3 separate regions of the Homo sapiens genome follow, and all the other regions are linked to region 3. Evidence: fine-mapped expression QTL. A gene starts in region 3. Each other region holds a variant in brackets. All regions are shown on one strand. Distances are between the middles of the regions. Region 1 overlaps ARHGAP39 (Rho GTPase activating protein 39). Region 2 overlaps ZNF251 (zinc finger protein 251). Region 3 holds the start of C8orf82 (chromosome 8 open reading frame 82).

The links.
Region 1: its variant is fine-mapped to the expression of C8orf82 in whole blood (INTERVAL, PIP 0.96).
Region 2: its variant is fine-mapped to the expression of C8orf82 in whole blood (TOPMed, PIP above 0.99).

Annotation. Positions count from the first base shown.
Region 1 is chr8:144,581,680-144,584,436 of GRCh38, reverse strand. The region is part of intron 2 of ARHGAP39 (Rho GTPase activating protein 39); the gene reads left to right. Among named protein-coding and RNA genes, the nearest start is that of C8orf82, 54 kb to the right of the region's middle. The variant G/A (reference allele first, on the strand shown) is at 1,354.
Region 2 is chr8:144,720,084-144,722,840 of GRCh38, reverse strand. ZNF251 (zinc finger protein 251) reads left to right here. Exons shown (of 5, transcript NM_138367.2): 5 at 1-1,932. The coding sequence ends at 1,197. Among named protein-coding and RNA genes, the nearest start is that of ZNF251, 34 kb to the left of the region's middle. The variant G/A (reference allele first, on the strand shown) is at 1,422.
Region 3 is chr8:144,527,645-144,530,401 of GRCh38, reverse strand. C8orf82 (chromosome 8 open reading frame 82) reads left to right here and starts at 1,291. Exons shown (of 3, transcript NM_001001795.2): 1 at 1,291-1,641; 2 at 2,330-2,378; 3 at 2,615-2,757. The coding sequence starts at 1,486. It overlaps ARHGAP39 (Rho GTPase activating protein 39), which reads left to right. Exons shown (of 12, transcript NM_025251.3): 12 at 1-1,223. RefSeq lists silencers at 325-424, 1,156-1,745, 1,756-1,805, 1,763-2,057 and an enhancer at 1,786-2,642.

The DNA.
Region 1 (2,757 bases), 54 kb before region 3:
AAACAAAGCTATTTAACAAGCTATCCTAAGATCCCTTTCTATCCATATGGGAAAATGAAATTTCACACAGTAAACAAAAATCAGTGCAGGCAGATTAATGACTTCAGTGTGAAAAGCAACTGAAGTGCACCCACCATGCCCGGCTAATTTTTGTGTTTTTTGTAGAGATGGGGTTTCACCACGTTGCCCAGGCTGGTCTCAAACTCCTGAGCTCAAGTGATCCGCCTGCCTTGGCTTCCCAAATTGCTGGGATTACAGGCATGAGCCACCGCACTTGGCCAGTTAATCTCTTTTAATATTTGGCTTTAGACTTCCAGTAATTTTCTAGACAACTATATACATGTAAACACATATGCCACTTTTAAAAATAAAGCTATATAACTTTATCTCATTATAAACTGTGACAGTCCTTCCTTGTCATTAAGTTTGCATTTGAATTAAAACACCCCTGCGGGGAGATACCGTTTATCCCCTTGAGTGATGTGCTGGACAGGCCAATATAAGAGTGCAGATGCTTCAGGGAAACATTGCCCACTAAATCCTTAACACTTTAAAACTGGACACTTGGAAAGATTCATTGCATGTCATACATGGAATATGCACCATTTTATAGGAAGATAATATGTGGGTTTTTTTTCCAATGACAGTAGTAATCTTGTGAATATTGTGGAACACTTGGAAAATACAGAAAAATAGAAACCTCTGTAACCTGCCACCCCCACAACAGCACCGCCAACATGACAAATTCTTGATCGTGTGACTCTCAGAATAGAATTCCAGCCAGCAAGGGTGACGGTGTGCTGGCCAGCTCAGTGGAGCACGCAGGCAGGAAGCATCCATGGTGCTCAAAGTCGTGGGTTAAAGTGGAGGAGAAACAGGATGTCAGGGGCCTTACGGGATCCCCACGAGATCCTCGTAGCTGGGGAGACGGCACAGGATGCTACGGTGGGGAACCTTAGTGGGCACCCAGTCCCGCCCGGGCCGTGGGCAGACCCCGTCTGTGCCTCCACGTGCCGAGCAGTTGTCTCCTGAGCTGCTCACCCCACAATGCGTGCGCCACTTCCTGTTGCGGTTTCAGGGAGGTGACACGCGGTGAATCTGGGTGAAGGCTGTTAACCTTTTTGAAAATATGAAATTATAAAACAAAAAGTTAAAACTTTAAAAATAAAAGGAAGAGAACATGATCAGTGGTATCAAAAGTGGCACAGCTCCCTCGGGACTGAAAGGTGCTGCCTAGATTTGTTCGTCAGGAGCGACTGGGGGACCCACTGTGGGCTGGGAGGGAGGGGCTGGGCAGCTATTGGTGCCTGGCGAGACCCCGGGCTGAGAAGGGAAAGCACGGACCAGAGCGGG[G/A]GTGGCCCCTGTTGCGTGTGGTTTGCTGGACGGTGGACGGTGGAGTGGGTGTGTACGCCAAGGGTGTGGCGAGACATGCAGGTGGAAGTTCAGAGTCTGGGGCCTGTGGAGGGTCTGAGCCGAGCAAGCCGAGGCATTTGTTTGGGGGGAGTTGTTGGCAGATGTACTCAAGCTGAGCAAAACAACAGGACCCCCACCACCTCGCCTTCCCACGGGGATGACGGTGAAACATCCACAGGCGGGCCTCAGGAGTTCTCATCTGCCTTCCCCTGCAGCCCTCCACCACCAGCCCATCCCCAGGGTGCCCCTTCTCTCACTGGCCCTCCTTCATTGGACTTCTGAGTGCACCACTGTGGTGTCTGCACTCAGGCCCAGTCCCACCCGCCTCATCCTCCTCCTGCAGCCAGACCCCTGAGCCAGCTCCTTCCCCACGTAAGGCCCTGAGCACGCCCACCTCATGGCCCCACGTGGACTGTCCCTCGGTGCCTTCTGCCTGTGGCATCCAAACACAGAGGAGCAAACAGTGCCCAGTGGCCAGGGCCTGAAGGAGGGCTTGGGTGGCAAGGCCTGTTTCTCAGCTGCTCATCTGCATCAGCAAGAAACAGACCCAGAACCCCCAGGGCTGCTGCTGGGGCCGCCGCCACTGTGTGAGGGCCCGGCTTCCCCAGCTGGCCTCTGGGGGTGGCGGGGACAGACTCCGCCTGGATCCTTGGTGTCCTACGAGCAGGTGTGGTGCGCATCACAGCCTGTTTTCAGAGCCGCCGTGTCCCTGGCCTGGTTTCAAAGGGTGGGACGTGGGATGAAGGTCGCCCCCGCAGCCAGTCTGCGCCGGCCGCCAGGGGGGCTCTTTCTGTCCTTGACCTGGGGGAGCCGCAGGCAGCCCCCACTAGCCCGTGTCTGGGCCTGGTGTCCGCTGGCCCTTCTGCCCTCACCACTTGCCTCCCCTTCTGTTGAGCCCCTGGGATTAGTGCATTTTCCCTGGAAACGAGACCCCTCACCAGCCCGGTGATGGCGAGGACCAGGCCTGTCGCAGGGCTAACGAGACACCTCACCAGCCCGGTGATGGCGAGGACCAGGCCTGTCGCAGGGTTAAGAGACGGATGCATGGGTCCATGGGAACGCCTCCTGGCAGCATCTTTGCTGAGAGGCTCTTGGTGCCTCTAAGGGTTTTTGTTTCCGTGTAGAAACATGGAAGAGGCCTCAGAAACGTTACTGAGCTGGAGGCTGTGCCCCCAGCGGGGGTCTGAGGGCCGGGTGGAGACTCTGCCCCCCATCGGGGGTCTGAGAGCCAGCTGGGCCCTTGGCCTTGCTGATCTGGGGGATCCTTGGGAGAACACAGCTTGGGAGTCCAGCAGCACTTAGCTGGGCCTGAGGCCCCTCCAGACCCCGACCCAGTGTGGAGGT
Region 2 (2,757 bases), 190 kb before region 3:
TTTGGACTCAATTCTCACCTCCGTCTTCATCGGAGAATTCACACTGGAGAAAAACCCTTTGGCTGTGGTGAGTGTGGGAAGGCTTTCAGTCGAAGCTCAACTCTTATTCAACATCGGATCATTCACACAGGAGAGAAACCCTACAAGTGTAATGAATGTGGAAGAGGCTTTAGCCAGAGCCCCCAGTTAACTCAGCATCAGAGAATTCACACTGGAGAGAAGCCGCATGAATGCAGTCACTGTGGGAAGGCCTTCAGTCGAAGCTCCAGCCTTATTCAGCATGAGAGAATTCACACTGGAGAGAAGCCCCATAAATGCAATCAGTGTGGGAAGGCCTTCAGTCAGAGCTCAAGCCTTTTCCTCCATCATCGGGTTCATACTGGAGAGAAACCCTATGTATGTAATGAATGCGGCAGAGCCTTTGGTTTTAACTCTCATCTTACTGAACACGTAAGGATTCACACAGGAGAAAAACCCTATGTTTGTAATGAGTGCGGCAAAGCCTTTCGTCGGAGTTCCACTCTTGTTCAGCATCGAAGAGTTCACACTGGGGAGAAGCCCTACCAGTGCGTTGAATGTGGGAAAGCTTTCAGCCAGAGCTCCCAGCTCACCCTACATCAGCGAGTTCACACTGGAGAGAAGCCCTATGACTGTGGTGACTGTGGGAAGGCCTTCAGCCGGAGGTCAACCCTCATTCAGCATCAGAAAGTTCACAGCGGAGAGACTCGTAAGTGCAGAAAACATGGTCCAGCCTTTGTTCATGGCTCCAGCCTCACAGCAGATGGACAGATTCCCACTGGAGAGAAGCACGGCAGAGCCTTTAACCATGGTGCAAATCTCATTCTGCGCTGGACAGTTCACACTGGTGAGAAATCCTTTGGATGTAATGAATATGGAAAAGCTTTCAGTCCCACCTCACGACCCACTGAAGATCAGATAATGCATGCTGGGGAAAAGCCCTATAAATGTCAAGAATGTGGAAACGCCTTCAGTGGAAAGTCAACCCTTATTCAACATCAGGTAACTCACACTGGTCAGAAACCATGTCATTGCAGTGTGTATGGGAAAGCCTTCAGCCAGAGTTCACAGCTCACACCACCTCAGCAGACTCGTGTTGGAGAGAAACCTGCTTTAAATGATGGCTCTAAAAGATACTTTATTCATATCAAGAAGATTTTCCAAGAAAGACATTTTTAATGTGATAAATGCAGAAGACAGTTTAGCAACTGTTCACTTGACATTAGAAGATAAGATGGCATAATGAAAGATATATAAGGTCTAAATATTACTGGCAAAGTAAAATAAATAGTTCAGATGACTACTAAAGTCAAAGTCATTAAATCTGGAAGTAAACACGAGAATTCATTCTGGGAAATCAGGCTGTCTGTGTAAAGGTTACTGCTGTGCTCAGGAGTTGAACC[G/A]TGTGGTGCTGTATCCGGATACTCATGACGAATGGATGGAGGGCGTGAAAAGTGAGCCCAGCTGGTGCTCTGGGTCTACCCTACCTGACATCCTTCCAGTCTTATCCTTTGTTTCCTATCCAGGCCCAGGCTTGTGGCTGAGAACATCCACTTTCAGTCCCATATACCTGCCTCCAAGTGTGGTACAGAGAACTTGGGCCTGCTGGGGGCGCTTAGCCTTACTCTCTCCACCACCTCTCCCACCAACCCCCAGATGAACTGCAGGTAGACGTTTCTTCCTTGCTTGGAGCCCCAGTTTTTGCATTTCATTTTCATTAAAATGAAAGGTGGTTTGGTTTTGGTTCTAAGGAGCTCTACAGTTTAACAGAGAGAGGGACCTTAGGGGCCAAGAAAGCAGGGGCCTACCAAGTATCTCCACTTTTGAAAATTGTAATTACTGATAAAAAATTTTTTAAAGGCAGGTTTATTGAAGCATAATTTATAAACAATAAAATTTACTCTTTTTAGTGTATAGTTCTTTGGGCTTTGACAAAAACATACAATTGTGCCACTACCACATTCCAGACATTGAACATCTTCACCACCACCCAGAATTCCTTTGTGCTCTCTTGTGGTTAACCCCTCCTCAACCCCAGTCCGTGGAAACCACTGGTTTGTTTTCTATCCTCTATCCATCACCTCACCATTTCCAGAAATAGTGTGCAGCTGTTTGCACGTGGCTGCTTTTACTGAACATGATGCATTGGAGTCATCCATATTGCCTGTGTAGAGTGCTTTTTTGCACCGAGTAGCATTCCATTGTATGGATGGAGCCATTTGTTTATCCGTTCACCCATGGCAGGGTATTTGGGCATTTTCAGTATGGGCAACTATGATTAAAGCTGCCATCACTGTGTATCAACTACAGGCTGTTTTGTGAATCTAACTTTTCAGTTATCTTGGGTAAATAGGAGTGGGATTGCTGGGTCATATGGTAAGCTTATGTTTAACATTTTAAGAAACTGCCAAACTTTTACAAAGTCAGTTGTATATCCCCACTGATGATGTGTGAGTTTAGTTGCTTTGAATCCTCACCAGATCTTGGTATTGTCCTTTTTTTTTTTTTTTTTTTTCCGAGGCGGAGTTTTGCTCTTGTTGCCCAGGCTGGAGTGCAATGGCGCGATCACGGCTCACCACAACCTCCGCCTCCCGGGTTCAATTCAAACGGTTCTCCTGCCTCAGCCTCCTGAGAAGCTGGGATTAGAGGCATGCACCACCACGCCCGGCTAATTTTGTATTTTTAGTAGAGACGGGGTTTCTCTATGTTGGTCAGGCTGGTCTCCAACTCCCGACCTCA
Region 3 (2,757 bases):
AGGGATGTCCTGCCGCCCCCAGCCAGGCCGAACTCCGCACTCGCTCTCCCGGCAGAGGGGCCAGAATCGCCCGGCCCAGCCCTGGAGCCCCCTCCACTCCCCCAGGCCCCTGGCCCCGGCGCTCCCCACGTCTTCTGCCTGGTCTGAGGGTGCAGCCAGGGCACAGCAGCGGCGGGGAGGGCGCCTCTGGCCCCCCACCTCACGGCCAGTTCCCGCGGGCACCGCCTCGCCCTCCGCTGGCCGCGGGTCAGCTCCGAGAAAGTGCCTTCTGTGTCCTGGAGCCGAGCGACGCTGCCTCCTTGGGGCCGGGCTGCCTCCCTGTGGCTCCTGCGCGCCCTGGCCTGGGCCTTGCCCAGCCGCCCCGGTCTCTCCTTCCCTTTCTCCTGTCCTCGTCCTGGCCTGCAGCTCTTCCCAGCCCCGAGAGAGCTTCCCGACCTGTCCCCGCCTCCTCTCCCTCCCTCGGCCCGTGGTCCCCAGCTGGTGACTGCTCAGGAGTTTGGGGGCTCCAGGACAGTGGGCCCGGGGCCTGGCAGGCTCTCGGTGGGTGGGGTGGGGGCCCCCAAACCAAAGTCCTCTGGGGTAGGGAGCAGGGCTGGGCAGGCATTCTGGGGGCAGGGTGGGGGAGGGGCGAGAGTATTTTTTTCTTCGTGTAACTGTAAATCCAGAATCTATCCTGCATCGCAGCCCACCGTGTATAGAGATATAAATAGAGGGAAAGATATAAGAACTAAATTTGCTAATGACATAGTTTTAACCTAAATGCTATTTATCTCTGAGCCGTCCCCGTCCTCCGTGCAGAGCAAGTTGAGGTCATTCCTTCTTTTCTTCTCCGATCTTTTTTCTTGGCTTCTGACCAAAAACCAAGCTCTACCCCATCCCCATCCCAGACCTGCAGGAGACGAGCGAGCGGGAAGGCGCCGGGCCCGGGACTGTCCGTTCTCGGGGCCAGAGCTGCTGGGGGACCGAGTTTGTACATTTTCCATTTTGGAATTTTGAGTTCCAATTGTTGTAAAACTTAATTTCTCCCCAGTTTTTATATATATATTTTTTAGAGTTCCGTTTTTATTTATTAAAAACAAAAGCCCCAGCCCTGCCGAGGCCTGGGCGGCGTCCTCAGTCGGGTGGTCCCGGGGCCTTTGCGGTCCCGCCCGGCTGAGACGCTCGCCCCGACGCATGGACCCGAGAGGCGACGACACGAGTGAATAAAGTGCACATGGACCCTGCGCGTCCTCCCGTTCCTTGTGGGCGCGGCCGGGGGCGGGAAGAGACGCGGGGCGGACCGGAAGGGGCGTCACCGGCACACGCCTCTCGGAAGGCCAGGGCGGGCGAGCCCCCGAGGCCCGAGGGAGAGGGAAGAGCGCCGGGCCCGGGTCGCGGAGGCGGGCGCCGCCGGAACGCGAAGCGCGGGGCTACTGCGGGCAGGCGCGAGTTCGCGCAGCACCGCCCCCGGCGTGACCTGCTGGTCGCTTCCGGCGCGGGAGGAGAATGTGGCCGCCTTGCGGGACGCTCCGGACCCTGGCCTTGGCGCGGTCGCGGGGAGCCCGGGCCTGCAGCGGGGATGGGGGCGTTTCCTACACGCAGGGCCAGAGTCCGGAGCCGCGGACCCGCGAGTATTTCTACTACGTGGACCACCAGGGCCAGGTGGGCGGGGGCAGGGCCGTTGCTCGAGAGGCGGGGCCGGGAGAGGTCTCTGGGCGGGGCGGGGGGGGGGGCGTGGCTCTGTGGGCGGGACCATTGCTCGAGGGGCGGGGCCGGAGGGACGTTCCAGGGGGTGGGTGGGTGGGCGGGGCCTGCGCGGTGGGCAACCTCGACTCCTCAGAGCTGGAGGAGAGCGCGCTGGAAAGACGGGGAGTTGGGTCGGTCCGGGCCGAGGCTCCTACATGGGCCGCGTCCCTGCTGCGTTGTGCAGCTTCGGACTCTGTCCTACAAGTCCCCAGCCCCGGCGCTGACTTCTCGCCGCTGCCAGGGAGACACCCGGGCCGCCCTGCCTTTTTTTGGAAGCCCTGTCAAAAGGCAGCTGCATGTCCGGGAGGCAGCAGGCCAGGTAGTCTCCGCGGAGGAGGTGGTACAACTGATTACAAACTTGAAAAGAGGGAAAAGGTGCGGGAAAGAATTGGCTGACCAGGGAGCAGAGGTGCGCATAGACGCGGATAAGTCGGCGGGGCCCCCAGGTTTACCTTTCACGCGCCTCCCTGCATGCGGTGTGCACAGACAAGCAGGAAAAGTGGGCTCGGGCCGGTTCAGGACCTCCCGAGCTTCAGGACCTCCTGAGCTTCCCCGCCCCCACCTGCACGCTGGGACTTATCACGGCCTGGCCCTCTATCTGCAGCTTTTCCTGGATGATTCCAAAATGAAGAATTTCATCACCTGCTTCAAAGGTAATGCTGTGCCTCCCTCTCCAGCCCCTTCTTTCTCCCTTCCGGGCAGCCCCTGATGGGCTCCCCGACTCTGCCGACGGGCCCAGCGCACCAAGGAGTGGGCGTCCTGCGCTCAGGAGCCCCGCTGAGTGAGGCCAGGCGAACCTCTTACCGTCGGCGCCTGCCCTCGGTATGGTCCTGGGCCCGGAGGCCTTGGGAGCCCAGCGCGCTGAGTACACGCACCCTTCATCCCCCAGACCCGCAGTTCCTGGTCACCTTCTTCTCCCGCCTGAGACCCAACCGCAGCGGGCGCTACGAGGCCGCTTTCCCCTTCCTCTCGCCCTGCGGCAGAGAGCGCAACTTCCTGCGCTGCGAGGACCGGCCGGTGGTCTTCACGCAC